2 linked regions of the Homo sapiens genome follow. The protein of the gene in region 1 interacts with the protein of each later gene in a pairwise test. Each region holds a gene or a part of one and is shown in the gene's direction. Other genes may lie near its edges.

Region 1 (12,424 bases):
AAGCCAAAACAAACTTGAAAAAGAACAAAGTTGGAGAACTTATACTACCTGGTTTCAAAACTCACCATAGGCCGGGCTCAGTGGCTCACGTCTGTAATCCCAACACTTTGGGAAGCTGAGGCAGGTGGATCACCTGAGGTCAGGAGTTCAAGACCAGCCTGGCCAACATAGTAAAACCCCATCTCTACTAAAAATACAAAAAATTAACTGGGCATAGTGGTGGGCACCTGTAATCCCTTGGGAGGCTGAGGCAGGAGAATCACTTGAACCTGAGAGGCGGAGATTGCAGTGAGCCTAGATTGCGCCTCTGCACTCCAGCCTGGGTGAGAAGAGCGAGATTCTGTTTTTTAAAAAAAATCACCATAAAGCTTCAGTAATAAGGATAGGATGGAATTGGTATAGGATAGATAAATCAGTGAAACAGAATAAAGTCCAGAAATAAACCTTCTCATTTATGGTCAGTTTATCTTTGGCAAATGTACCAAGTAATTCAGTGGGGGAAGAAATGGATACCCCTTCTCCATGATGTGTTTATATCATATTTCATACTTATATCAAAACATCTCATGTACCCCATAAATATATACACCTACTGTGTACCCACAAAAATTTTAAAAAATAATAAAATCAGTGGGAGAAAGGATAGACTTTTTATAGTGGTCCTGGAACAACTGTGTGTGTGTATATGTATATATACACACATATACATACATATATATGCACATATATATATATGAAAAGATGAATTTAAGTCCTTAATCCACACTGTATACAAAGATTAACTTAAATTGGATCATAGACCTAAATACAAGAATACTGTGAAATTTCTAGAAGAAAACACAAGAGCAGTTCTTTGTGACCTTGAATTAGGCAACAAAAGCAAAATGCATCAAAGAAAAAAATCAACAACCTACAATCTTTTGCTCTTCAAAAGACACCATTAAGAAAAAGACAAGCCACAAACTGGGAGATAATATTCACAAATCATGTATCTGATCAAGGACTTGTGTCCAAGATATATAAAGAACTCTTATAACAGTAATAAGAGGCCAAACCTAATTTTTTAAAAAGATTTGACTAGGGTTTGATGGGAAAAAGATTTGAGTAGATATTTCATCAAAGAAGATATGTGAATGGCTAAAAAGCACATGAAAAATGCCCAACACCATTAGTCATTGGAGAAATGCTACTTAAAACCACAGTGAGATACAACCACATACTTCGTAGAGTGGCTGTAATCAAGAAGACTGAAATGACCAAGTGCTGGAGAATCGAGAACTCTCGTGCATTACCAGTCAGAATGTAAAATGGCACAGCCACTTAGGAAAACAGTTTGGCCATTTCTTTTAAAAGGTAAACATATGCTTACCACACAACTCTGTAATTCTACTCTTAGGGATTTACCCAAGAGAAATGAAAATATATATCCATACAAAGACTTGTATGTGAATGCTTATATTGCATTATCCATAATAGCCCAATATTGGATGTTGTACATCTATGCCATTGTGCATTGTTGTTTAATGGGTACATAGTTCCAATTTTACAAGAAGAAAAATGTTCTAAAGATGAATGATGGTGATGAGTACCCAATAATGTGGATGTAGTTAATGCCACTGAACTGTACACTTTAAAATGGTTAAGAGGGTAAATTTTATGTTGTATATATACCACAATTTTTTAAATAAATAATTTTTATTTTTTATTTTATTTACTGTTTTCTAGAGACAGGGTCTTGCCGTGTTGCGCAGGCTGGAGTGCAGTGGTGAGATTGTAGTTTACTGCAGCCTCAAACTCCTAGGTTCAAGCAATCCCCCCGCCTCAGCCTCCCAAGTAGCTGGAACTATAGGCATGCGCCACCACACCTGGAATTTTTTTTTTTCCAAGATGGAGTCTTGCTCTGTCACCCAGAGCTGGAGTGCAGTGGCACAGTCTTGGCTCGCTGCTACCTCCGCCTCCCGAGTTCAAGCAGTTCTCCTGCCTCAGCCTCCCTAGTAGCTGGGATTACAGGCACACACCACCACGCCTGGCTAATTTTTGTATTTTTAGTAGAGACAGAATTTCACCATGTTGGCCAGGTTGGTCTCGAGCTCCTGACCTCCTGATCCTCCCGTCTCAGCCTCCCAAAGTGCTGGGATTACAGGTGTGAGCCACTGTGCCCAGCCAATGTTTTAATTTTTTTGTAGAGACAACATCTCACTATGTTGACCAGACTACTAGAGTGGCCATAATCAAGAAGACTGAAACTACCAAGTGCTGGAGAATCTAGAACTCTCGTGAATTCCTAGTAAGAATGCAAATGGCACAGCCACTTTGGAAAACAGTTTGGCCATTTCTTTAAAAAGTGAAACACTTAAATGACCAAACTCCGGGGCTCAAGTGATCCTCCCACCTCAGCCTCCCAAAGCATTGGAATTACAGAAAAATCTGAGGCCACCACACCTGGCCTCAAATTTTTTAAAAACATAATTATTAAGGACCAGGATCTGGGTAGTGGGCACTATCTCACTTATTTCTCACCATAGCCCTTTGAAAAGGACACCGTTTATTTTCTTCATCTATCCAGGAAATTGAGGTTCAGAGAAATTTGGTAACCAAAGTCACAGGTTCCATCCCAGCCTGTCAGACCTCAAAGACCCCACCTGGCCATGGTACCCTCCTCCTGCATGTTCCTCTCCGACTGTAAGAAACCTAACCTGGCTCTTGGGTCTGGGCCGCCAACATGCCATCCGGACAGAGGAAGATCCAGAGACTTAGGGGTCACGTGAGCCATAGCCACGGCCGCATCAGCAAGCACTTGGAAGCACCCAGGAGGCCGTGGTGATGCTGGTGGTAGGCGTCACCAGAGGATTAGTGTCAACAAGTCTCACCTGGGTTGCTTTGGGAACGCTGGTGTGAGGCATTACCACTAGGAACCAGAGCTTCTGCCCAGCTGTCACCCTTGAAGCCACATGGAGGGAGGTTCATGAAATGCTAACAACTGCTTTAAAGAGAAAAAAAGACAAGAACCCTAACCTGTACCCCTGTTCCTCCTTCCCACAGGCACAACAGGGTTCTATCAAGGAGGAAATGGACTGGGCAACGCAGCCGGTTTCGGGAGTGTGCACCAGGTAGACATGGCTCCCTCCCGATTCTTTCCTCAGTTCTTTCTGGAAATATTCCCCTTACATCAGGGCACCCAGAGAGCCCACGACACACACAATCCCCATTGGGAACCTGCCTCTTAGTCCCTGGGTTTGGAGACTACAGGGGCTAGATTGTGCAAAAGGCTGCTGGAAGGACACAGTATACAGGCGGAGACGTAGGAATTGTTAGAAGATTCCTGAGATGTCATGGAGATCTACAAGTATGTTCCATCTTGACCTGGACTCAGGACACCCATTGACTGTTGAATCTGATATATATCAATACAAATGGGTGGGTTCTTTCACCAGACCATGGGCTTCTCAAGGGGGACCGTATATCTTGCTCACCTCTGCATCCCCAGTGGTGAGAGCCCAGCACACAGTGGGGGCTTTATAAATACTTGTTAAATAGAGCAAAGTCAACTCTATATAGGTAAATGTTGGCTAGTACTTTGATTCTCTTGGTGTCACTTACAAAGTGAATTAAGAGTTCGCATCTGCTCAAAGTGTGCAGTAACTCTGCTGTGTGTACACCTTCCCTGTACACCTAAAATTATTTCAAAACAAAAGGTTCACCTGCTTTCAGGCTACCATTTAAAACAGAACCACCCTGGGGTAGATGGGCTTTAGGAATATTTAACATATTTAGATCTGAGGAATACGCAATTTCTTTTCCAGTGAGAATCTAAATAATTTAAAACTTAGCAAATGTAAAAATTGTTTCATGTATTTTTGCATTATTTCTAATGTACTATGTACATAGATAAAATACTTATAAATAAAACAGTACTTTTTAAGATGTGGTTCTTAACCCTCCATTTCACCATTAAATCTGTGTTTTTCAAAAACACTGACCACCCCCGCAACCCCCACCCCCAGGAACTCTGACTCCCAGCTCTGGGGTGGGGCCCAGGAAGCAGAACGTTCCATGAGTTCCGTGCAGGGTTGAGAAGCACTGGTTTGGTGATAGTGCGGCAGGATATTTGAAACAATGACTGTTGGAGAATTGGGATCGCTGGTCTGCTTAAACAAAGCTTGATCAAAGGTGATTGGCAGCTATTGAATTGATCTCCATGACTCCCTCATAGAATATTCTGGACCCCTAATGCTGTGTAGGTGCTGCTGTATTTGCACCTCCTCCCCATGAACATAAAATGTCACCTAGTCTCCTGGGTTTGTGTGTCGTGTGGGTGTGTGTGCGGTCTTCTAGGTTTGTGTGTGTGTCGTGGGGGGGGGGTGCAGTGTGGTCTTAATTGTTAATGCATTTGTTTATTAATTTAACCAGTATTTGTTGAGTTACTGCATATACCAGGCACTGTTTCAGGTGCAGAGGATACAATAGTGACCAGGACAGGTGCCATCAGGGCCACGTCTATATCCCTTAGGGTGGCCTGTGGACCTCCAGGTGCCAGCATCTGCATGCCTGGGCCCAAGGGGCTTTTCTAGAACCAGTGCACGGGGCAGGCAGGAAGTGCCTGGGAATTAAAGCCCCCTGGGTGCAGCTCTCAAAGACCAACAAGTTGATGTATAAACCCCTCCACTCCCTTGACCCGTGGGAGAGGCAGTTCTGAGATGTGGATTTTAGACCATCTCAGCTTTTCCTCATAGGGCTCATCTCTGGTCACTACCACAGAAGCACCTATGCAGGCTGCTCTCCCGCATCTCTCTCACTTCCCCGATCCCCTGCTGGTGTCTCCTTCACCTTCCAAACAGCCTCCTTGCACTTGAATCCTTGCCCCGGGGTCTGCTTCTGGGAAACCAAAATGAAGACAGTTTCTGCCCACAGAGAGCTTTTATTCTAATGGTGAGACAGAGTGGCCAGGCTGACCAACGGCCCGAGCCCAGAAAGGCTTCCTCACATATGTCCTTGGTTTGTTTTTCTCTTCCCAGGACTATCCTTCCTACCCCGGCTTCCCCCAGAGCCAGTACCCCCAGTATTACGGCTCATCCTACAACCCTCCCTACGTCCCGGCCAGCAGCATCTGCCCTTCGCCCCTCTCCACGTCCACCTACGTCCTCCAGGAGGCATCTCACAACGTCCCCAACCAGAGTTCCGAGTCACTTGCTGGTAGGTGCAGTCACTGGTGGGGCCATTCATGGCTGTGGTCTGAGAGCTTCTATGAAGGAGGGACCCGCACATGGGTCCCAATTGTAACAAACAGGTTACCCAAGGGTCATTCATGGATGTGGCCTGAGAGCTTCTCTGAAGGAGGGACCTGGATATGGGTCCCAGTTGTCACAAACAGGCTCCCAAGGGCTAAATCCATCTCTCAGACATGTTTTGTTGGCCTGTTTGTGCATGTGTTTAATTGCATTTACGTTTAAAAGTCAGAAAATTTTATAAATACCTAAAAATTCTATTTTCTGGCTTCTTTTGAAAGAAGATCTGGCCATAGTAGCCACATTCCCAAGGAACACCACTTGGTTAAAACTAAGTGTGTCTGCTCTTTTTAGAAAGGACACACCCAATTCCACATCTAGCTAGCTTACCCCATGTTCATTACTGCCTGGCCCATGTAGGCCTTGGAGTTGATGAACCCTGGTAGTATTTATAATATTACCAGCTGGGCACGGTGGCTCACACCTGTAATCCCAGCACTTTTGGAGGCTGAGGCGGGTGGATCACCTGAGGTCAGGAGTTCGAGACCAGCCTGGCCAACATGATGAAACCCCATCTCTACTAAAAATACAGAAATTAGCCTGAGTCATGGCAGGCACCTGTAATCCCAGCTACTAGGGCGGCTGAGGTAGGAGAATCGCTTGAACCTGGGAGGCGGAGGTTGCAGTGAGCCGAGATCGCGCCATTGCGCTCCAGCCTGGGCAACAAGAGTGAAACTCCATCTCAAAAAATTAAATAAATAAATAAAATACCCATCTGTTTCGTGCTGAGCACATACCTGTGTGGTCTTCTCTAATCATTTACTTATATATTTATTCAACAAATATTTGGTAAGCTCCCACTGCATTCCAGGCCCTCCCTTTAGTTTGGGAAATAAAGTGCAGTGTAGAGTTAAGCTTTGCAGACAGGAATCAAATAATCATACAAATATCTCATTACAAACTGTGATAAGGAGAGGCATAATCCTCACAAAAACAGGTTTATATTATCCCCACCCTTTTTCTAGATAAGAACAATGAAGATGAGAGTGATAAGGAGCTTGCTAGTGATTGGTGGGGCTAGGATCCCAATCCCAGTTTGTTGGCCCCCATAACCAGCACTCCTGCTATGCACTGGCCATACACAGCCAGGAACTGTGTACACAGCCTGGCTGTGTACGGCCAGGAATATGTTATCTAAAATCCGTTTGAGAACAGAAGGGCAGAGGCTTTCAAATGTTGATTCTTTGTCTAAGAGGGGTTCAAGTATAGCGACTCAGGGTCCTCAAGAATTATACAATCCTTCAAAACATCCTTAAGCATGTTCATTTTTTTTTTCTTTCAACTTGTATTTTAGGTTTGGGGTACACATGCAGGTTTGTTACATGGGTAAATTGCATGTCGTGGAGGTTTAGTGTACAGATAATTTTGTCACCCAGATAATCAGCACAATACCCACTAGGTAGTTTTCCAGTCCTCACCTTCCTTCCATCCTCTACCCTCAAGTAGGTCCTTGGGTCTATTGTTCCCTTCTTTGTATCCATGTGTACTCAATGTTTAGCTCCCACTTATAAGTAAGAACATGTGGTATTTGGTTTTCTGTTCCTGTGTTAATTCACTTAGGATAATGGCCTCTAGCCCTATCCATGTTGGTTCAAAGGACATGATCTTATTTTTTATGGCTGCGTAGTATTCCATGGTGTATATATACCACATTTTCTTTATCCAGTTTGCCATTGATGGGCATCTAGGTTGATTCTTTGTCTTTGCTATTGTGAATAGTGCTGCAATGAACATACACATGCATGTGTCTTTATGGTAGAAAAATTTATATTCCTTTGGATATATACCCAGTAATGGGATTGCTGGTATATATCCAAATGGTAGTTTCATTTTAAGTTCCTTGAGAAATCTTCAGGCCGCTTTCCACAGTGGCTGAACTAATTTACATTCCCATGAACAATGTATAAGCATTCCCTTTTCTCTGTAACCTTGCCAGCATCTGTTATTTTTTGACTTTTTAATAATGGCCATTCTGATTGGTGTGAGATGGTATATCATTGTGGTTTTGATTTGCATTTCCCTAATGACCAGTGATATTATTTTTTCATATGCTTGTTGGCTGCATGTATGTCTTCTTTTGAGAAGTGTCTGTTCATGTCCTTTGCCCATTTTTTAATCGGGTTATCTTTAAGGATGTTTGTTTCTGATGGCACAATAGTTTTAGGAAACCCTTTTGATTAGCCAAGATTTTTTGGCTTCAAAAGACATAGAAAATCCAATTCAAACTAGTTTAAGAAAAAGCAAATGAACTTTTAGGCATATCTAACCTAGATGTACAGGGGTTTAGAGCTAGGTCCAGGTGTTCCAATGACAATGTTGAGACTTAGTTTCTCTCTTCCTTCTGGCTCTGAATTTTCCTGGGTTCGTTCCGTTCTCAGGCAAGCTCCTCCCCTATGGTGGCAAAGATGGCCACCAGCTACCCAGAGCTCAATCCTGTCTGCTAATCCATCCCAGCAAACATAGTTCCTCCTTCTTAGCCATTCCTGCAAAAGTCCCAAGTAAAGCTCCCATTGGCCCAGCTTAGGTCACATGCTCATCCCCAAACCAATCTCTGTGGTCAGTGGAATGGAATGCTGGGATGAAGCAGCAGACTTTGGGCTCATGCCTACGGCTGGAGCTAGAGTTGGGGTCAGCCTCACCTCAACCACCAGGGACTGAGAGTGAGGAAGAGGTGATCACCTCAAAAAACCTAGAGCATTGTAACTACAAGAAGACAGAAGAGACAATGGGTGAGCAAAAACAATAAATGTCCACAACCTTGATATGGATGCCACCTACACTATGAGCAACATGTGGCAGAGTCCATGTCCTGACCCCTCTGTGGTCACAGAACTTAGTATGTAACATCCCTATGCAACTAATGCACCAGCCTGTGGATTCATTCATTCATTCCCCAGACCTGCTATGCACATCTTCTCTTTTACAAGGTGGTTTTGGCTTATCAACATTAAATAACATGGCAGCAATACGTTAGAATGTCAGTAGATATCACTGAGTTTCGTTCCTTTGTCTTCTTTTCTGAAACCTACTGATGCTGTAGGGCTTTGCAGAAGCTAAGCTAGCACGATGGTGTGGAGACAGTCATCAACAAATATTAATTGGTTGATTGTTAGAAAAGGAACAATAGGGAAGACCCACCTGTTTTGTTCCTGGGGTTCTTGGTGTGGCTATTGATTTTAGCCCTTAAATTTTCCATCACTGGGAATGAGTGAGTTATCCTTGGTTTGATGACAAATGGAGACAATATGGCAAAGCATGTTAAATAAAGTCAACTTTTTAAAAGGTTTAGAGCTTGAGCATTGATTTTGGTCATTGTGATCTCATCCCAGAATATTTAATGATGCATAGTACCTATTTAATAACTTTCTTTGAAGAGTTTGAAGTTTAACAAAGTTTTTCTCTGTCATCATCTTGAATTATCTTTAGCCATCCTGATTTTCAGAATGTGGTTCTTCCGATCTCATTTCAACAAAGGAGATAAAAACAAAACATTGATGAGAAATTAGGGCAGAGAGGAACTATAAGCAGGAAACCATCGAGTAGATGCCACTATCCGTCTATAATTCAATGGTGAACTGAATGGCAAACGAAAAACTTACCTCCCCAGAATTTGAGTTTTGTGGGAAGGTTCTCTTCATTCCCATCAGGAGTGAATATAAAGGCTCATTGTGTCTTTGAAATTTTTCTGTCTTGTTTCCCTCTGTTCTTCCTTTATCCCTTGATCAAAGGTTCAACAGTAAGTGGTTGAGATGGTTTTTACTGTGTGTCTAACAAGCTGACATAAAATCTAATGACGTAAATAATGGTCAGCTGTAGCTGAGGTCTCCTGCCTCTTTTTCCTAGTGTTCACTGTAAAGGAATTTAAGCATATGTGTGTGCACATGTGCACGTGCGCGCGCGCGCGCACACACACACACACACACACACACACACACATTCATGCACTCTTTTTAAATTTCCCATAAAAACTCTACTTTTGAAATTATCCAGGATATCCTTGAGTGGTTGGTTCCAAACTCCAGAGGCTCTAGAGGTTTACTGACAGACAGATCACACTCACTGTGTGCACTGCCTGGATATAGTATTTTGGTGCTCTCACCACTCACATCCCCCATGCACCCCATCCTCGCCACAGGACACTCTGCATTGACATGCATTAATGTGTGTGTGAAGTGCCAACAATTTGCAGATGATTACAGGGCAATTTGCTGATATAGAGGGCAGAATCTGAACATCTCATGTTACTTAAGAGAAAAACCAAATCATTGGTTACTTAAGGATTTTTTTCTTTTTACATTTTTAAATATGATACAAATTATCTAAAAAGAAGTTGAAGGATTTTTTAACTTCTAAGATCAACTTCCTTTGCCAAGAGAAGAAGAATTTTTTTAATCTCTCAAGAAGAAATTGGGAAGGCTCTTCCGTGTAATTTGGCAACATCTAACAAAATTTAAAATGCATAGACCTTTTAACTCAACTATTCGACATCTAAGAATTTATCCGAAAGATAAACTTTGACCTAGGTACAAACACTTAAGTAAAAAGAATACTTATTTTTTTCACTGATTAAAAATTTATTAATACTATTATGCAAATAATTTTAGTGATAACCACAAGGGTTTTGTACTGTTAGTACATAAATACATACAAAAATGCATTTTGAAACTTCTTGTATCCCCTTTATCCTTTTCAATTTCTGTTTATGTTTGCTCTACAATATATATGATGGATCTGTGCAGTAGAAAATTTTTTGCTGATGAGTATGGTACAATCAGAAATGTTTGGAGACTGTATCAGTTTCTTCTTGCTGCTGTAACAAATTATTATGACCTTTGTGTCTTAAAACAACACAGTGATATTTTACAGTTCTGGAGGTAAGAAATGCAACATGGCTCTCACTGAACTAAAATTGAGGGGTCAGCAGGGTTATAGTATTGGAGGCTCCAGAGGAGAATCACTTCCTTGCCCTTCTACCTGCAGAGGCCACCTGCCTTCCTTGGCTCATGACCCTGCATCATTCCAGTTTCTACTTACATTGTCTCATCTCCTTCTCTAACTCCTGCCCCCGACCCCTTATAAGGACTGTTGTGATTCCACTGGGCCCACTCAGAGAATCCAGGATCATCTCCCCATCTCGAAGTCCTTAAGTCAGTCACATCAAGAATATTTATTTTTTTAAAAAAGAATATTTATTGCAGCAGCATCATAGCAAAAGGCTGGAAACAACCTGGATACCATGCCATTAACAGGAAACAGGTTAAATCAATCATGGTGCATCCACCAGTAGCATACTATACAGCTGTTAAAAAGAATAAGTTAGATATATTTGTGCTACTATGGGTTTCTCTTTGAGCTATTGTGATAGGTTAAAAAAAAAAAGCAGGAGGCAGAATTACATGGGTAATGTGAGCCTGAGTTTTTTAAAAGTTTAAGTGTAGCTTAATACCCATATTTACTCATATTCCATAAGGAATTTCTAGAAGGATGCAATAAGAACTGTTAATAGTCATTTTCTCTGGAGAGGAAAACAAGATCTGGAGTGAAAGGAAAAGACTGTATGTAACAGGCAATCTGTAGAACACTCCACCCAACAGCAGCAAATACACATTCTTTTCAAGTGCACATGGGACATTTACCAAGATAAATATTAATATCTTCTGGGCCATAAAACAAGTTTCAGTACCTTTAAAAGAATCAAGGCATACAAAGCATGTTCTCTGACAGCAGTGGAATTAAATTAGAAATAAATTTCAGAAAGATTTTTGGGAAGTTCCCAAATCTTCAGAATCTCAATAATATACATTTCAGTGACCCATGGGTCAAAGAAGAAATCAATGGGAAATTAAAAAGCACTTGGAACTGAATGAAAATGAAAACAAATATATCAAAATTTATGGAATGTCATTAAAGCAGTACTTAAAGGGAAACTTACAGCACGAAATACCTGAATTAGAAAAGAAGACACAATTACCACAGGTATCAGGTGAAGGAAGGGAGGGAGGGAAATGAGGGAGGGGGGAGGGAGGGAAATGAGGGAGGGAGGGAGGGAAATGAGGGAGGGAGGGAGTAAAGGGGAGTGGAGGGGAGGGAAGATTGGTCAAAGGATACAAAATTTCAGTTAATAGGAATAAGTTCAGAAGAACTATTGTACAATATGGTGACTATAGTTAATAAATAAGGTATTTGTATTAGTCTATCTTCATGCTACTGATAAAGACACACCTGAAACTGAGCAGTTTACAAAGGAAAGAGGTTTAATGGAGAACTCAGTTCCATGTGGCTGGGGAAGCCTCACAATCATGGCTGAAAAAAAGGAGAAGCAAGTCACATCTTACGTGGATGGCAGCAGGCAAAGAGAGAACTCGTGCAGGCGAACTGCCACTTTCTTAAAACCATCAGATCTTGCGAGACTCGTTCACTATCACAAGAACAGTGCAGGAAAGACCCTCCTTCTTAAAGAGACAAGGTCTTACTCTGTCACCCAGGCTGAAGTGCAGTGGTACGATCATAGTTCTCCGTAACCTCGAACTCCTGGGCTCAAGCAATCCTCCCTCAGCCTCTCAAGTAGTTGGGACTACAGGTGTGTGCCACCATGCGCAGCTAATTTTTAAATTTTTTGTAGAGATGGGGACTTGCTCCTCCTTGTCTTCGGCCATGATTGTGAGGCTTCCCCAGCCACATGGAACTGAGTTCTCCATTAATGCTCTTTCCTTTGTAAATTGTTCAGTCTCAGGTATGTCTTTATCATAATTCAGTCACCTCCCACTGGGTTCCTCTCATGACATGTGGGAATTGTGGGAGTTACAATTCAAGATGAGATTTGATGGGGACACAGAGCCAAACCCTATCAGTGTTATATACTTGAAACTTGCTGAGAGAGTAGATTTTAAGTGTTTTTAGTAAAAAAAAAATAAAAAATATGTGAATGTTAATTAGCTTGATTTAGCCATCCCCAATATATACATATATCAAAATATGTTGTACATCATAAATATACACAATTTTTATTTGTCCAGTTAACAAATCATCATCATCATCTACAGGGTTGCTGTGAAAATTGAAATAAAAAGGCCGGGCATGGTGGCTCATGCCTGTAATCCCAGCATTTTGGGAGGCACAGGCACGTGGAGCACCTGAGG
Region 2 (12,424 bases), on another chromosome or scaffold:
TATACAGGTGCAGCCTCTACATTTCAAAATAGCAGCCTGGCAGGGAGTGGCCCAGCCCTAGGCTGCACGGGGCCAGGCTCTTAAGGAGTTCTGGGAGCTCCGGAGGTGGTGTGGCCACCAGGTGAAGGTCCAAGGCTGCTGGGGCAGATGGCGGTGGCAGGTGGGCTGCCCAGGGTAAAGGTGGCCGGTTGGCTCTGGGCTCCCAGACATCCAGGAATGCTCCTTGTCCCGGCAGGGGTGGGGGCACTTAATTGCTTCTCCCACAGGACTGTGGGGCAGGGGGTGATGGAATTCCTGTCCCCGAAGCTGCGCCATGGGAGGGTGGGACCCCAGGCACAGCCCGGGGTGAGGGGCTGCTCGGGATGTGGGTGGCTGAGAGGTGCTGGGGGCTGATTCTGGATGGGCAGGGCCAGCTGGCCTGAGTGCCCTCACCTCTGTCCCTTGGTTCCCTGCCTCTAGACCCTCAGGCCCCAAGGTGGGGCTCAGCCTGGGCTGCCCGCCAGGGAGGGATGGGGGAACTGAGGCCAGGCTGAGGCGCTGGTGCCTACAGCTCATCGCGCCCTTTCTGGAGTCTGAGATGGGTCCTCTTGGCTCTGGGATCTGCCTCTGGCCCCTCATGGAACAACTGAGCCTCTGGTCGGGGGCGTGGGGGTCAGCAAGAGGAGACAGATGGAAGGGCAGTTAGCAGGGGTGCTGGGCCATTGGCCTGCAGGGGCGGTGGCTCCAACTCTGGGCCGAGCACCCCCTCCTGCCCTGCCCTGGGAGCTCGGCCCTGGAAGAAAGGGGCCTTTCCAGGCCCAGCCACACCCTTCCTTGACCTGCGAGAAGCCCCGCTCATGCCCGGCCCGGCCCGCAGGAGTTTGAGAATGCGGAGGGGGACGAGTACGCAGCCGACCTGGCGCAGGGCTCCCCGGCCACGGCAGCACAGAACGGGCCCGACGTGTACGTCCTGCCACTCACGGAGGTCTCCTTGCCCATGGCCAAGCAGCCTGGGCGCTCAGGTGAGGGCTGGGTGGGGAGATGGGGTGGCCTCCCTCCGGGGCCCAGGTGCTGGGCGTTGGGTGTGATCTGGGGAGACCGGAAGACTCAGCTCTGGAGTGGGGGCAGCACAGGGCTGGGAGTGGCCTGTGGGGTAGACGCAGTGTGCAGCCCTGGACTCCCTGTGGCTGCGTCACAGGCCGCACTGTGGGGCCAAAGGTGCATGTACCTCTTTCTCCTGGGCCTGGGGGCCGGCCAGGGGTTGGCAGGGTCCAGGACAGCCCTCGGCCTCCAGCCTCCCCTGCCCAAGGGGCTGCTATGCACAGGGACAGGGGTGGGCACGGGGCAGGGGTGGGCACTGGGGCAGGGGTGCGGGCTCTCTGGTCCTGGACATGGCCATGTGCTGGGGGCAGGGGCTCTTCTGCAGTCCAGGGATGCTTGACCCCAGATTCCTGCCCCCTTGAGCGCCAGCCCTTCAGGGACACGGGTTCCATTGTGCATGGCAGGAGGAGGGGCGCTGGTGGGGCCCGTGTGGGCGGGTGGTGAATTAGCCTTTCACTCAGGCTGCGAGGAGGGGCCGAGGGGTGGGGCTGACCCAGGAGTGCAGGTGCAGGCAGGGCCTCAGCCACAGCCTCATCTGCCCCCATCCTAGGGTCCTAGGCCGACCACTCACATGGGGCGGACGTGCTGGGGAGTTTGGGGGTGAATGGCCAGGCTTCAGGACCTCCCAGTTCTGTCTTGGAGCCTAGGTGGTGGGTGCGGGTCCCTCCAGAGCTATCAGATCTCAAGCCCCCTCCCAGGAAGCTTCCAGCCTGAGGCTTCCCCCATCACTGCCCACCCCCAGCTCCTCTGGGAACACAGAGGCAGGAGGGGTATCAGGCCAGTGGGAGGGGCCCCTGCCAGCCCTGTTGGGGCTCTGTTGGCACCAGGGCCTGTTACTGCGGTGCCATGCAGGCCACCTCACCTGCTCTGAGCCGTGCCTGGCTGGACCCTGAGAGCTGGCTATGAACTGTGCCTGGCTGGGCCCTGAGAGCCTAGCCTTCATCGTGGGCTGAGAGGCCCAAGGCACTGGTCTGGGACCTAGAGAGGGCCCCCAGCCCCCAGCTTTGGAGCCAAGGCCTCAACGCCTGTCCTACTCTGCCCCATCTCCTGGAGGACAGGTTCCCAGTTCGGCAGGAATCAGGGCTGGCACTTGAGCTCGAGTACATCTGTGGGCGGGCGCGGAGGACTGCAGCCACCCACTCAGAGCGTGAGGCCCTCGGACCTTCCCGGATGGCTGTGGGGGTCCCTGAGCCCTGTGCTGACCCTGCTGGGAGCTGCCAGGGACCATCCGAGGGGGTACTGCCCTTGGGTCCAGGGGCAGGTGTGTGCCTGGCCCCCGAAGATTCTCAGAGCCACCTCTGGAGGATTGCTGTGGGGACTGGGGTTGGCGAACAGGAGCCCGAAAGAAGGCACTGGTTACCTGTCTCTCTACTTTTGCAGCTCTGGTTTCAGTTTTCTGGGGGAGGAATGTGCTTCTAGGGAGGAGAGAGATTGGGGTGAGGTCAGAAAAGTAGCCCCAGAGGTCAGCGGGGAGAAACCTGGGCAATGGCCCCACCCGCTGGGGACCGCAGAGAAGGACGGCTGCCTGCTGCCTCCGGCAGTGCCCAGGGCCTCTGAACTGTCTCAGCACCCATGGTCAGGACCCCCACACTTGCTCAGGGACAGTGTGGGCCTGGGCGCCCCAGGGTGAGAGAGGGCCGCCCAGACAGGCTGGGCTCAGGACACAGCACCCGGTGGGCCCACACGCTCAATTCTGCCCTGCCCCGCCTCTACATTCTCTGGGTCTCCAGGCCCTGGAAGGAGCCCCCTCCCCCTGGGCTCTCCTGGCAGCCAGGCTCAGACCCAGGCCTGTCAGCCCTCTGGGCAGTTGACGTGGGAGCAGAATTCGGGGAATCCCTCGGGGCGTGGGCAGGCATGAGTGGGCTCTGCCAGCGCTGGCCCCTTCGTCCCGGGCCTCACTGACCCTTCCTCCCGCTGACCTCACCCGGCCTGGCCCTCGGGGAGAATGGGCCAGTGTGCTCCGTGCGGGGCCGTGCCAAGCAGCCCCCAACAAAGGAGCCTTTGGTGCGCCCGGCGTGGGATGCCAGCCTGCGGCAGGGTGGGGGTGGGCCGCTCCAGTGCCCTCTCTGTGCCGTGGCCCCAGCCTCTTGCTCAGCCACACTGCCTGCCTGGTGCAGCCCATGTGACGGGTCGAGCTCCGGGCCCTGCTGTCCCTGGCCGGGCTATCCCAGTGGCTTCAGGCACCTTCTCCAGACCTACCCAGAAAGATGCCCGGATGGATCCTGCAGCTCCGTGGCTTTTCTGGGAAGCAGCGGCCCCTGCTCTCAAGAGACCCTGGCTCCTGATGGTGGCCCCAAGGTTGCCAGCTGGTGCTAGGGACTCAGGACAGTTTCCCAGAAAAGGCCAAGCGGGCAGCCCCTCCAGGGGCCGGGTGAGGAAGCTGGGGGGTGCGGAGGCCACACTGGGTCCCTGAACCCCCTGCTTGGTTACAGTGCAGCTCCTCAAGTCCACAGACGTGGGCCGGCACAGCCTCCTGTACCTGAAGGAAATCGGCCGTGGCTGGTTCGGGAAGGTACGTGTCCCGCCTGGGAGGGAGGACTCCCGCCTGGGAGGCAGAAGGGACACAGGGCTGCAGACCTGCTCCTCCTAGGAGCCACCCCAGCCCCGACGGTCCCTTCTTCAGTCTCTGGGCCCTGCTGGACCCTTCCCCAGGGAGGTCCTCAGCATCTGGCTGCATCCCCTTCTCCCTAGGGGGTCCTGGGGTCAGAGGTACCTGGGGAGGGGCCCTGGGAGGGAGAGGAGCAGCCTCTTGCTCATGGCCTTCCCCTGACCTTGGCCTAAACGAGACACCTGGGTCCCTCTTCCTCACTTCAAACCCCCAGAGAGAGAGAGAGAGAGGGCAGCGGGGGACCTTGTGGGGAGAGTAACACGAAAGACTCAGAATATTACAGCCAGAGGGTTGCCGGGAGGGATCCGGAAGCCATACCTCACGCTGCAATGAGTGGACGGGGCACAGGAGGAGAAGTGTCCTGTCCTGGGGGCCGGCGTGGGGCGGGTGGGAGAAGAGTAAGGCCTGGAAGCCGGGGCCGGTGGAGGCGGAGCAGCCGTGGGTGATGCTGTCTGTCCCACAGGTGTTCCTGGGGGAGGTGAACTCTGGCATCAGCAGTGCCCAGGTGGTGGTGAAGGAGCTGCAGGCTAGTGCCAGCGTGCAGGAGCAGATGCAGTTCCTGGAGGAGGTGCAGCCCTACAGGTGGGAGGCCACCGGGCACAAAGGCCTGTGCTGTGCGGCCCCCTCCTCTCCCTCCCCTGCTCGGCCCGACTCCCCCTCCCCACCTCCTCCCAAGTCAGGGGCCGCCTGTCCACTCCCGCAGGGCCCTGAAGCACAGCAACCTGCTCCAGTGCCTGGCCCAGTGCGCCGAGGTGACGCCCTACCTGCTGGTGATGGAGTTCTGCCCACTGGTGAGCTGCTGCCCGGGGGGATGCTGGGGTCTTTGCTGAGCCGGGGCCCTCCCTTGCCCTGCCAGTGTCTGGTGCCACCCCCTCCTTGGGGGCCTCACATCCTCCCTAAAGCCAAGACCCAGGGACCCTGCCCCCACCACCTTCCAGAGGAGGCGATGGGGAGACCTAGCCTCACCAGGGAGGGACTGTGGGGGCTGGGCACAGAACAGGCCTGGGCTGGGGCTCCCTGCACCCCTGGGGAGCTGCCAGCTGCTTGGTCACCTGCTTGTGTGCCCTGTGGTTCAGGAGGAGGCATCCTGGGCCAACTGGGGGGGGGCACTGGCCCACTTGGGCTCCACGGCCTCACTCAGGCTTGCTTTTGCCATGGGGGGCTGGGCCTGGCCACTTCCCCAGGCTGCCTGGAGTTCTGGGCCTGCCCATCAACGCCCCCCGCCCCGGGGACCTGTCCCCCCCTCCCCCTGAGACCTGCCCATCAACGCCCCCCTGCCCCGGGGACCCGTCTCCCCCTCCCCCGAGACCTGCCCCCCACCCCCTTCCACATATGCAGCTCCTGCACTGAGCCGAGGCTGTCTGTGGCTGGGCTGGATCCCCTGCTGGCTTCCCTCGGGACAGGGGCCCTCACACACTGGCGTCTGGACTCCTGACGTTGACCGTCCCGGGGCTGGGCTTTCGGCAGGTCAGGGGCTGCCGGCCAACCCTCGACCACCAGCCCCAGACTCCATCAAGCAGATCCACTTGGGCCCTGTGTTTCTCTCTCTACCACAGGCCAAGGGACTCCTGCTGCCCGGGGCTGGCTGAGGGGCAGTGGAGAGGAAGCCTTCAGTCCAGCCCAGCCCTGGGGGACACGGCCCCCCTCCAGGAACTGCTGGGTGCTGGCCACTGTGCAGGGCACGAGGCTGCTCTGGGCAGCTGCTGTCCCTCAGCTGTGGGTAGGGGTGGAGGAGTTGGGGAGGTAGGTGGGGACCTCCCAGGGTGGCCAGCCCCCAGCCTGCTGGTGACTGCGCCACACCCCCTTTCTGCAGGGGGACCTCAAGGGCTACCTGCGGAGCTGCCGGGTGGCGGAGTCCATGGCTCCCGACCCCCGGACCCTGCAGCGCATGGCCTGTGAGGTGGCCTGTGGCGTCCTGCACCTTCATCGCAACAATTTCGTGCACAGGTGAGGGCGGGCGCGGGCCAGCGGCCGGGAAGCCCTAGGCCAGGCCCCTCCCCTGAAGGAAGGGCATAGGGCGGGTCCTGCCTCAGGGGGCTTGCGAGGACCGGCCAGGTTCATCTCATGCAGCATCAGACAACCACTATGCAGAGGGATTTTATGACGTTTTTGAAAAATTGGGAAGACAATGGTTTGACACCCACTTTGCAGGTTTAGACGAAGAGATGCGTACTGTCAAGCTGGCCTGTTCTCTGTCCCCGAGGCAGTCAGCCAGCACCCTGCAGCCCCGCGCCAACCCCACACTCTGCTAAGCCCTCGCTTTGGGGCTTGAGGGAGACAGACCCTGCTTCGAAGGACCCTGGAGGGAGGGTTCTGTCCTGCTTGGGCCAGGATGCCCAGCCCCTGGGGACCCCGGGGGGACATGCTGGAAGAAGTGGCGAAGGACACGTGGCCCCGTCAGCCCCAGACGCCGCACGGCTGTCCTCTCCAACAATATCCTGGTGCTGAGTGATGACTCAGGCGACTCCAGCATCAGTGATTTTGTTGAAGAGGGCAGCTGCCAGCCTCCCGACCTGCCTGCCGGGCCCCAGCTGCCCTGCCCCCAACCCCAACCCACCCCACTCCACCCCCTAGGCCCAGGACACATGGCCCTGTAGCGATCCCCTGGCACGCAGACATGGGTTTTATGTGGGGAGGGACAGGCTGGGTTGGCCTCTGTCCCCACCCTGAGTCCTGAGCACAGAAGTAATACGGCAGCTGTGGTAATATCTACCCAGTACCCTGTGCCTCCTCACACCCACGTGACCAGCCAGGCAGGGTTCAAAGCCAGCAGCCAAGGCAGGCTGGGTTGGAGGTAGTGCCAGGCGTAACCTGCATTCTTTCCAGACCCTACCCAACCCTGGGGCCAGTGGTGGCTCAAGTGAGAGTGAGCTCCAGCTCTGAGTGGGCATGGCAGGGCTGGACCCTAAAACTGGACTCCGGCAGCCGGCAGGACCCCTGGGACACTCCAGGCCTCAGTTTCCCCATCAATTCCCACCTCCTGGGGAGCCGAGAGTGATAGTGTAGTAGAGCTAGGAGGAGAGGGTCCTGGAGAAGCGTGGACCGGTCCGGGTGGGTTCCGGCAGGTTCTCACCCTCTCTAGGCCCCATTCTCCTCTGCACTGTAACATTTGAGGCCCACGCACACAGTCCCTCCCCAGGTCTCAGGGTTGGGCACAGAGTAGGGCCCTGGGCAGGGATGGGGGGTGGCAGTGTCTCCAACGCCCCTTCCAGCCTGGACTGTGAGCCATCCAAGTGTTGGCAAAGGACCCTGTGCTGGATGCCCCCGCCCGGCACACCCCACTGACCCTCCCCCTGCCCCCACCCGGCACACCCTGCTCACCCTGCTCACCCTGCCCCTGCCCCTGCCCCTGCCTGCAGCGACCTGGCCCTGCGGAACTGCCTGCTCACGGCTGACCTGACGGTGAAGATTGGTGACTATGGCCTGGCTCACTGCAAGTACAGAGTGAGTGGGGTGGGGTGGGCTGGGCTGGGCATGAGGGGCAGGGCCTGCGCCGGCAGGGGTGACCCGTCCCTGTGCCAACAGGAGGACTACTTCGTGACTGCCGACCAGCTGTGGGTGCCTCTGCGCTGGATCGCGCCAGAGCTGGTGGACGAGGTGCATAGCAACCTGCTCGTCGTGGACCAGACCAAGAGCGGGAATGTGTGGTGAGTGCGGCCCTGGTGGCACCGTGAGGGGCCGAGGCCGAGTGCCACCTGCCCACCCATGTCAAATCATGGCCATGAGTAGTGAGGTCAGGGGGCTGCCGGAGCCACCTGTAGTGGCCACACGCCAGCAGCCCAAGTGGCTGGTTGGGTGGCGACCCCACACCGGGGGAGATACCACCCTGACAGGGTGCCCCAGGGACCCCATGGTGGGGTCAAGGCATACGTACAGGGCCAACGGCCCGTCTTCAGCATGCCGGGGGGTCTGTCCTGAGACGGGGGCCTTGGTGAGTACCTGTCCCTGGGGAGAGGGTCTGGGTGGGGTGTTGGCTGCCTTCACGGGAGCGTAGGTCGGGCCGTGCCAGGCAGAGGGGCTGACGGTGGTGCTGGGATCTCCCACGGCCGCAGCCTGGAAGCCCCTATCCTGAGTGCCTAGCCCGGAGCGTTCATTCACACCTGGTGTAGACTCGGAAGGGGCAGGGCCGAGCCGCCAGGGGAGTGGTCCGCCCCGGGGTGGGCGCCCCTCCCTGCCTCACCTCTGCTGCTTCCCCAACCGCCCCCACCACTCCCGGGCTTTGGTCTGGCCGCCTTCTGCTTCTGGGGAACTCTCAGATCCCACGGGCCAGGCCCCCTCCCTGAGCTTTTGGGGCCTCCCCTAAGCCACTTGACTGCCCCATCATGGACACTGTCCCCTCCTCACCTCTCCACCAAGGTGCCCCTTCCTGGCCTGCCCACCCACTGCACGCTGGCTGGGGTCTCCAGTCACAGGGCTCTGGCCAAGGTCATGGTGACGTCTTGCCAAATCACCTCTGTCTCACTCTGCAGCCTCTTGGGACAGCCAGGGACCAAAGTGGCTGGGTGAAGCCACAGCCCACGGGGAAGGAGACCCCAGTTACCCTACCCGCCTGCACGCTCTGTGCACCCCTGCCTGTTACCCAGCCCTGCCCATGCTGGCCTGAGGCGTCCCCTCTCTCCCCTTCCTTCCCCCTCCCTCCCCCTCCCTCAGCCCCCTGCTGGTGCGGGCCCTACTCCGCTTTGGGCTCCACGCCCGCCCTCCAGCTCCCCCAGGGCAGCTCCCACACCGGGCAGTGTCTGGTCTTCAGTGCATCAGTGAATGAATGAATGAGTGGACAAGCAGATGGATTCGGCCAGCCCGGCCTTTATGTGCAGGCTCCACAGGTGCTGGGCTTGGGCCTGGCAGGGTGCACATTGCCTGCTGAAAGGACGCGCTGTCCTCAGGGAGGGGCGGCTGGTATGGTACCAGGCCCCGGTCCTGAGGCACTGGCGTGATGGCGGGAGCTGCCCCATTCGGCGCCCCGGGGATCCTGCGCGGTCCTTGCTGTGGCAGGCTGTGCCCAGCCCTGGCTCACGGCTGTCGCCCCACAGGTCCCTGGGCGTGACCATCTGGGAGCTCTTTGAGCTGGGCACGCAGCCCTATCCCCAGCACTCGGACCAGCAGGTGCTGGCGTACACGGTCCGGGAGCAGCAGCTCAAGCTGCCCAAGCCCCAGCTGCAGCTGACCCTGTCGGACCGCTGGTGAGGGCCCCACTGCCCTGTCCCGGACAGCCAGGCCGAGATGGGGTATCCTGATCCCCAGGCAGAGGCGGCTCACCCTGACCCCCTGGCGTTCCAGCCCTGCCTGGTCTCCCCTCCCCTCTGGTAGGGCCTCCACCCGCCACCTCTGCACCCCTGTGTACAGGGAGGGAAGGCTTAAGGATAGTGCCCAGCCCACCTCCTGCTCCCACGCTGCTGGGCTTGCCTTGGCAGATTTGGGGTGTCAATTAAGTGGGAGATACCCTTAATGCCCCCAAGACACTGGGAGTTAGGGGAACCCCCATCCCTGCTCCAGGGACGCGTTCCTGGCCAGCGTTGCCTCTGACGTGGCCCCCGGGGGACCTCCTCGCAGGTACGAGGTGATGCAGTTCTGCTGGCTGCAGCCCGAGCAGCGGCCCACAGCCGAGGAGGTGCACCTGCTGCTGTCCTACCTGTGTGCCAAGGGCGCCACCGAAGCAGAGGAGGAGTTTGAACGGCGCTGGCGCTCTCTGCGGCCCGGCGGGGGCGGCGTGGGGCCCGGGCCCGGTGCGGCGGGGCCCATGCTGGGCGGCGTGGTGGAGCTCGCCGCTGCCTCGTCCTTCCCGCTGCTGGAGCAGTTCGCGGGCGACGGCTTCCACGCGGACGGCGACGACGTGCTGACGGTGACCGAGACCAGCCGAGGCCTCAATTTTGAGTACAAGTGGGAGGCGGGCCGCGGCGCGGAGGCCTTCCCGGCCACGCTGAGCCCTGGCCGCACCGCACGCCTGCAGGAGCTGTGCGCCCCCGACGGCGCGCCCCCGGGCGTGGTTCCGGTGCTCAGCGCGCACAGCCCGTCGCTGGGCAGCGAGTACTTCATCCGCCTAGAGGAGGCCGCACCCGCCGCCGGCCACGACCCTGACTGCGCCGGCTGCGCCCCCAGTCCACCTGCCACCGCGGACCAGGACGACGACTCTGACGGCAGCACCGCCGCCTCGCTGGCCATGGAGCCGCTGCTGGGCCACGGGCCACCCGTCGACGTCCCCTGGGGCCGCGGCGACCACTACCCTCGCAGAAGCTTGGCGCGGGACCCGCTCTGCCCCTCACGCTCTCCCTCGCCCTCGGCGGGGCCCCTGAGTCTGGCGGAGGGAGGAGCGGAGGATGCAGACTGGGGCGTGGCCGCCTTCTGTCCTGCCTTCTTCGAGGACCCACTGGGCACGTCCCCTTTGGGGAGCTCAGGGGCGCCCCCGCTGCCGCTGACTGGCGAGGATGAGCTAGAGGAGGTGGGAGCGCGGAGGGCCGCCCAGCGCGGGCACTGGCGCTCCAACGTGTCAGCCAACAACAACAGCGGCAGCCGCTGTCCAGAGTCCTGGGACCCCGTCTCTGCGGGCGGCCACGCTGAGGGCTGCCCCAGTCCAAAGCAGACCCCACGGGCCTCCCCCGAGCCGGGGTACCCTGGAGAGCCTCTGCTTGGGCTCCAGGCAGCCTCTGCCCAGGAGCCAGGCTGCTGCCCCGGCCTCCCTCATCTATGCTCTGCCCAGGGCCTGGCACCTGCTCCCTGCCTGGTTACACCCTCCTGGACAGAGACAGCCAGTAGTGGGGGTGACCACCCGCAGGCAGAGCCCAAGCTTGCCACGGAGGCTGAGGGCACTACCGGACCCCGCCTGCCCCTTCCTTCCGTCCCCTCCCCATCCCAGGAGGGAGCCCCACTTCCCTCGGAGGAGGCCAGTGCCCCCGACGCCCCTGATGCCCTGCCTGACTCTCCCACGCCTGCTACTGGTGGCGAGGTGTCTGCCATCAAGCTGGCTTCTGCCCTGAATGGCAGCAGCAGCTCTCCCGAGGTGGAGGCACCCAGCAGTGAGGATGAGGACACGGCCGAGGCCACCTCAGGCATCTTCACCGACACGTCCAGCGACGGCCTGCAGGCCAGGAGGCCGGATGTGGTGCCAGCCTTCCGCTCTCTGCAGAAGCAGGTGGGGACCCCCGACTCCCTGGACTCCCTGGACATCCCGTCCTCAGCCAGTGATGGTGGCTATGAGGTCTTCAGCCCGTCGGCCACTGGCCCCTCTGGAGGGCAGCCGCGAGCGCTGGACAGTGGCTATGACACCGAGAACTATGAGTCCCCTGAGTTTGTGCTCAAGGAGGCGCAGGAAGGGTGTGAGCCCCAGGCCTTTGCGGAGCTGGCCTCAGAGGGTGAGGGCCCCGGGCCCGAGACACGGCTCTCCACCTCCCTCAGTGGCCTCAACGAGAAGAATCCCTACCGAGACTCTGCCTACTTCTCAGACCTCGAGGCTGAGGCCGAGGCCACCTCAGGCCCAGAGAAGAAGTGCGGCGGGGACCGAGCCCCCGGGCCAGAGCTGGGCCTGCCGAGCACTGGGCAGCCGTCTGAGCAGGTCTGTCTCAGGCCTGGGGTTTCCGGGGAGGCACAAGGCTCTGGCCCCGGGGAGGTGCTGCCCCCACTGCTGCAGCTTGAAGGGTCCTCCCCAGAGCCCAGCACCTGCCCCTCGGGCCTGGTCCCAGAGCCTCCGGAGCCCCAAGGCCCAGCCAAGGTGCGGCCTGGGCCCAGCCCCAGCTGCTCCCAGTTTTTCCTGCTGACCCCGGTTCCGCTGAGATCAGAAGGCAACAGCTCTGAGTTCCAGGGGCCCCCAGGACTGTTGTCAGGGCCGGCCCCACAAAAGCGGATGGGGGGCCCAGGCACCCCCAGAGCCCCACTCCGCCTGGCTCTGCCCGGCCTCCCTGCGGCCTTGGAGGGCCGGCCGGAGGAGGAGGAGGAGGACAGTGAGGACAGCGACGAGTCTGACGAGGAGCTCCGCTGCTACAGCGTCCAGGAGCCTAGCGAGGACAGCGAAGAGGAGGCGCCGGCGGTGCCCGTGGTGGTGGCTGAGAGCCAGAGCGCGCGCAACCTGCGCAGCCTGCTCAAGATGCCCAGCCTGCTGTCCGAGACCTTCTGCGAGGACCTGGAACGCAAGAAGAAGGCCGTGTCCTTCTTCGACGACGTCACCGTCTACCTCTTTGACCAGGTGGGCCGCCGCCACCCGGGGTCTGCCCGGGGCTGGGGGTCGCGCTCCCGCAGGAAGGGGTGGGAGCGGCCGCGGCTCCTGGCGGCCGAGCTACCTGGTGCTCTCTGATTCCTCCAGGAAAGCCCCACCCGGGAGCTCGGGGAGCCCTTCCCGGGCGCCAAGGAATCGCCCCCTACGTTCCTTAGGGGGAGCCCCGGCTCTCCCAGCGCCCCCAACCGGCCGCAGCAGGCTGATGGCTCCCCAAATGGCTCCACAGCGGAAGAGGGTGAGCAGGGGCGGGGCTGGGCCCGTGACGTCACGGGAGGCAGGGCCTGGTCCGTGCTGTGTGGGAGGCGGGGCCTAATGTGTGACATCATGGGAGGAGCACCTGGTCCTTGACGCGTGGGAGGCGGGCTTTGGCCCGTGTCGTCATGGGAGGCGGGTCTGGTACGTGACGTCACGGAAGGCGGGGCCTTGTCCGTGCTGCATGGGAGGCGGGGCCTGGGCCCGTGACATCATGGGAGGCGGGGCCTGGGCCCGTGACATGATGGGAGGCGGGGCCTGGGCCCGTGACTGTGGGAGCG

The links.
Region 2: the proteins of EYA2 (region 1) and AATK interact in a two-hybrid assay, tested with the Homo sapiens proteins (one study listed by BioGRID and IntAct).

The regions. Positions count from the first base shown.
Region 1 is NC_000020.11:47,069,143-47,081,566, forward strand, and holds part of EYA2 (protein phosphatase EYA2), read left to right. Parts: intron 1-3,042; coding exon 3,043-3,110; intron 3,111-5,015; coding exon 5,016-5,193; intron 5,194-12,424. UniProt on the Homo sapiens protein: Functions both as protein phosphatase and as transcriptional coactivator for SIX1, and probably also for SIX2, SIX4 and SIX5.
Region 2 is NC_000017.11:81,119,638-81,132,061, reverse strand, and holds part of AATK (serine/threonine-protein kinase LMTK1), read left to right. Parts: exon of another isoform or gene 1-17; intron 18-107; exon of another isoform or gene 108-160; intron 161-856; coding exon 857-1,001; intron 1,002-2,440; exon of another isoform or gene 2,441-2,904; intron 2,905-3,512; coding exon 3,513-3,592; intron 3,593-4,151; coding exon 4,152-4,270; intron 4,271-4,391; coding exon 4,392-4,479; intron 4,480-5,501; coding exon 5,502-5,635; intron 5,636-6,106; exon of another isoform or gene 6,107-6,185; intron 6,186-6,688; exon of another isoform or gene 6,689-6,786; intron 6,787-7,047; coding exon 7,048-7,132; intron 7,133-7,213; coding exon 7,214-7,335; intron 7,336-8,718; coding exon 8,719-8,868; intron 8,869-9,238; coding exon 9,239-11,861; intron 11,862-11,978; coding exon 11,979-12,126; intron 12,127-12,424. UniProt on the Homo sapiens protein: May be involved in neuronal differentiation.